Regions from separate parts of the Homo sapiens genome. Here region 2 is linked to region 1. A link means that fine-mapping ties the variant in region 1 to the expression of a gene that starts in the linked region. Tissue or cell type: unexposed skin. Region 1 holds a variant in brackets; the other region holds the start of a gene. All regions are shown on one strand. Distances are between the middles of the regions.

Region 1 (2,500 bases):
GGATAAGCATTGTCTGTTGAGTAACAGTGATGGCAGAAACAGATCTGGGTCCCTGGGCCTCTATATTATGGGATCTTAAAAGATAAACCTAATAAAATTAGTGTCTAGAGTTGCATTTATATTCCTTAGTATAGTTTATAAAGGCTTTTTTAAAAAATTTATCACTTGTATTTGTGGGTGAGGGGCATGGGAAGAGGGGAGAACTGAGGACACCATGGTCAAGAGACCTACCCAGTTAAATAAAAGGGATGTCTTTATAACTTGTGGCTCCCAGGGCTAGCCACGTCTGCTATTACTATAAATGCATTTCCCTCCATTATTAAAGTTATAATACTAAAATTTTGGTAAATAAAAGGCCGGGTGGGATCACACCTGTAACCCCGGCACTTTGGGAGGCTGAGGTGGGTGGATCACTTGAGGTCAGGAGTTCGAGACCAGCCTGGCCAACACAGTGAAACCCCATCTCTACTAAAAATACAAAAAAAAATTAGCCGGGCATTGTGATGTGCGCCTGTAGTCCCAGCTACTCGGGAGGCTGAGGCAGGAAATCATTTGAACCCAGGAGGTGGAGGTTGCAGTGAGCTGAGATCACATCACTGCACTCCAGCCTGGGCATCCGTCTCCAAAAAAAAAAAAAAAATAGAAACAGTGATTCTGGTCTCTTAACTCTCACCTTCCTGCTCATGTTGTTTTTTGCTGTTTGGAATTCTTTCTGGTTTTTAACCTGGCTAACTACTATATAGTTATTTTATTTAATTTTTTATTTTTAAATTTATTTTTTTTTTAATTTTTTTAGAGTGGTGGGATCTCACTCCCTCAGTCACCTGGGCTGGAGTGCCGTGGTGCGATCCTAGCTTACCATAGCCTCCACCTCCCAGGCTCAAGCTGTCCTCCTACCTCAGTCTTCTAAGTAGCTAGGACTACAGGCACCTGCCACCATGCCTGGCTAATTTTTAAATTTTGGTAGAGATGTAGTCTCCCTATGTTGCTCAGGCTAGTCTTGAACTCCTGGGCTCAAGGGATCCACCTGCCTCAGCTTCCCAAAGTGCTGGCATTACAGGCATGAGCCACCACACCTGGCCCCCTACTGTATAGTTTTAATCAAAATGTATGTAGAGTTCATCTAGTAGCATCCCAGCCAGACCTCAACTCCTTTACTAACTGTTTGATTTCTTAAATTAGTTAATTTTTGGCTTGGTGCCTAGACTTTGGGAGGCCAACGTGGGAGGATCACTTGAGCCTAGGAGTTCAAGAGCAGCCTGGGCATGGGATTTCACCATGTTGTCCAGGCTGGTCTCGAACTCCTGACCTCAAGTAATCTGCCTGCTTCAGCCTCCCAAGGCGCTGGTATTACAGGCGTGAGCCACTGCGCCAGGCCCCAAATGGTCTTTTTAATGGCTGCATTATATTTCACAGTAAGAAAA[G/A]CAACATAATTCAACTCTGTATTATAAATTAAGTCTTTATTGGACTTACAGGCTCCTTTCAGTTTTTCTTCATTTCAAACAATGTATGCCAAAATAACTTCCCTAGAAGTGCAATTGCTGGGTTATCCACATCTAAAGTTGGCATATATGCAGTCATCTTATTCTCTGAAAAAGAGTCTAAATTTAGTTTTAAATCTCAACTAGACTGTAATCTTCTTGGTAGCTGAGGTTGCATACTCTTTATTCCTTGTGGTACTCTTTTTTTTTTATTGGAGACGGAGTCTTGCTCTGTCGCCCAGGCTGGAGTGCAATGGCGTGATCTTGGCTCACTGCAACCTCCACCTGCCAGGTTCAAGCCATTCTCCCGCCTCAGCCTCCCAAGTAGCTGGGACTACAGGTGTGTGCCACCATGCCTGGCTAATTTTTGTGTTTTTAGTAGAGACGGGGTTTTGCCATGTTGGCCAGGCTGGTCTTGAACTCCTGGCTTCAGGTGATCTGCCCACCTTGGCCTCCCAAAATGTTGGGATTATAGGCATGAGCCACTGTGCCCGGCCTCTCGTCATACTCTTTATAGACTTCAGCACATAGTATGTCTGCCTACCTTACAAGGTTTGGGAGAAGATCAAATGAGATTGTGTTTGTGAAAAATAGTATTTGTATAGTGTTTTCCAGTTTACAAAGCACTTTGTATTATCTTATTTAATCTTTGCCAAAAACAAGGGAGATATTATTATCTCCATTTTACTGATGAAGGAAACTAGAACTCAGAGGTCACAATTTTGCAATGATTACAAAGCTAAGAAGGAAGGAACAGTGGATCCTCAGACTATAAATCCTATGCTTTTTTTCTATTTTAGACCATTCCACTGACTAGACAAAAATGGTATGCAAATGTGAAGTATTACTTTAGTGTTTTAGGTAGATAGAAAAATCCTTATTTGCATGTTTGGAGTGATTATTAAAGCAGAGGGGTTGATAAATGAATTTATGTTTGCAATTCTTTATCAGTCTCCAGCTCTTTAAAATCCATACCTCCCTATCTCTCCTTTACACAGGGCCCAGATATTACACTGTCA
Region 2 (2,748 bases), 220 kb after region 1:
ATTATTCATGATAGCCAAAAAAGAGAAACAACCCCAATGTCCATCAATGGATGAATGGATAGAAAAAAGTGGTCTATCCATGCAATGGAGTACTACTCAGCCGTAAAAAGGAATGAAGTATCAGCCGGGTGCAATGGCTCACGCCTGTAATCCTGACACTTTGGGAGGCCGAGGCAGGCAGATCACTTGAGTCCAGGAGTTTGAGACCAGCCTGGACAAAATAGTGAGACCCCGTCTCTTTAAAAAAAAAAATTGAATGAAGTATCAACACATGCTACAACATGGATGAGCATTGAAAACACGCTAAGTGCCACAAAGGACCACATATTATGTGATTCCATTTATATGAAATGTCCAGAATCGGCAAATCCATAGAGGCAGAAAGGAAATTGATGGGTGGGAAGGAGGAGGAACAGTGTTGGAAATGATGGTGAAGGAGTGTGGGATTCCTTTTGAGTCGATTAAAATATTCTAAAATTGATTGTGGGGATGGTTGCACAACTCTGGGAATAATCTGAAAATCATTAAATGGTACCCTTTAAATGGGTCAATTGTATGGTGTATAAATTATATCTCAGTAAGTTTCTTTTAGAAGAAACAAAAACCAAAAAGCAGGGCCTTCCTGACGTTGGTGAGGACCTAAAGTTATAACACATTTTCAAGCCTGGTCCTATTCCTCCCAAGCATGGTGACTCAGATGCCAGCATGATCACCAGGCGTGCCCTGAGATCCTCGCCTCCTCCCTGGGGATCCAGGGTGTTGCCCTGCGCTTTCCTACCTTCCCCAGGCACGCCCTGCCCTGCGCGCCCTGGCGGGCCTGAAGTAGAGCAGAAAGGAATCCCGCTTGTCCTGTGGCTTCTCTCTGCTGCAGCCTGGCACCGTTTCCTCTTGCCTGCTGCTGCTTCCTCCCTCCCGCCCAGCTGGCTGTGAGAGCACGTCTCAGATTCGAAAACCATGTGAGATTCAGAATGTGCACCTGAAGCTGCCCGCTGGGGCTTTCTGTGCTGTCGGCCACTGCAGAGATCTGGGTCCTCCCCAGATCCCACTTACCAAACGTAGGAAAAGATGATCACGTGGAAGAACCACTTAATGGTGCCATAATTCATGCTCTGGATCCGAGTGACTTTGTTCGTCTCATACTGGAAAACATCACTGCAGCTGCAGCAGGCCGGCATGGTGACAGCCTCCCTCCCTGCGCGGAGCTGGACCAGAGCTCTACTCTTCCTGACAGGGCCACAGCAAGCCCCCTCCCAGTAACTGCAAAATGAAACGTACTGGTTTTTAGCAGGAGTCTTTAACTTCAAGCTCCTCCAATGACTGCAGAGTTGGGGCGGGCCCTGGCAGTGGCCCCACATGTGGCTGTGATAAACAAGAAGCGCCAAGTCCTACGGGCCTGGCTGGCAGATGACCTCACCCCAGCTGGCCTCCCCCAGATGCCTACACAAAGATGGTGTTCAGAGGATGGGCATTTTTAGAATTCTCCCTTTTCCCCCCTTTCCTTTCACTTTTTTGGTCTCATGTCTCTTGGGAGAAAGGGGCAGCCTTGCAAATGTCACAAGACTGGGAGCTTCCATTATGCCTCAGAAAAGGACTGAGATCTTTCCATTGCCTGAAGCCCCACTCAGAGATTGATTCATTCATTTCTACAACCCTTTATTCAGCCCCTGATGTATAGGAGCTCTGGGTAAATGAAGATCTCCCCCTCTTCTTCCACCGCCCCTTATAATACTCTGGTCTGCAGTTGGTGGGGGAAATCAGATTTGCAGGGGTAGGGGTGGTGGGGGTGGAGGGGCTTTATTTTTCTGCCAGATCTTTCATGCTTGACCCTCTGAGTTACTCTCCACCCTCCTCTGCACCCCGGCAGGTCGATCTATGACCTAGACCAATCAGCCAAAGATCACCAGGGACACAGTGGCAGTCCAACAAAGTTAGGTTTGTTGACCTATTCAGTGAGGGACACCACCCACCAGAAGAGCTACGCACATCACCAAACAAAGGAAAACAGCAATTTATTATAGGATTCCGAGGAAAGTGGAGTTGAGATAAAATCTAAATGAAGTCATGTTTTGATGGACTCAAAGCAAAACAGGTTTGTACAAAGCAGTCAACTTCAGTCTGGATTGCAAAGAGGACCCAGGGCCCTGTTTCCTAGGAAGCAACATAGCTAAGATACATGTCAAATGTGTCCAGAAAATCTTTATCTGAAGCTCTGCTCCTGAGTTGTAAATTGAGGCTGCTTCTCTGTGTCAAGATGACTTAAATCTTCCAGGCAAAATTGGAATATTTCAGTCTTAGTCATGTAATTTCAAACAGCAAAGTTTCTGAAGGTCTCTGATTTTAAAGGACAATGTTTCAGCAGTCACTCAAAGATGCAGGGTTGTATTATCACTTTACAGCTACAGAGAATTATTGTTCCCTGTTATCTTTACAGCTGGCTTGATCCCTTTCTGTTATTCCAGCCTGCTAAGTGGCCGGGTAGATTTTCAGTTTTTCAGTCTAAACTAATTGTACTTTCTCACACATACAAACTGCATCAGGGTTCCCCTCACCTTCTGGCTTCCAGTTCAGGAGACTGGAGAGCAGTGAGGATGGACGTGACTCCCTGGCCCTGCCCTTCTCAGTTGCATATAGGCAGGGCTTCTGGGCACCACTCCCTCCTTTAGTCCTGGGAGTGGTAAGGGCTCCCCACTCTTACCAGCCCCAGGAAGCTCACTATCTCCTATTGCTTTTTCTTAACTCTGTCCACAC

Evidence for each region. PIP is the estimated chance that this variant, and not a neighbour inherited with it, causes the effect.
Region 2: it holds the start of P2RX7, and the variant in region 1 is fine-mapped to the expression of P2RX7 in unexposed skin (GTEx, PIP above 0.99). The same link has a PIP of 0.9 or more in tibial nerve and whole blood.

What each region holds. Positions count from the first base shown.
Region 1 is chr12:121,347,861-121,350,360 of GRCh38, reverse strand. It overlaps ANAPC5 (anaphase promoting complex subunit 5), which reads left to right. Exons shown (of 17, transcript NM_016237.5): 2 at 2,480-2,500. Among named protein-coding and RNA genes, the nearest start is that of ANAPC5, 3.3 kb to the left of the region's middle. The variant G/A (reference allele first, on the strand shown) is at 1,425.
Region 2 is chr12:121,131,398-121,134,145 of GRCh38, reverse strand. It overlaps P2RX7 (purinergic receptor P2X 7), which reads right to left and starts at 1,270. Exons shown (of 13, transcript NM_002562.6): 1 at 1,051-1,270. The coding sequence starts at 1,175. The region is part of intron 2 of LOC105370032 (a long non-coding RNA gene); the gene reads left to right.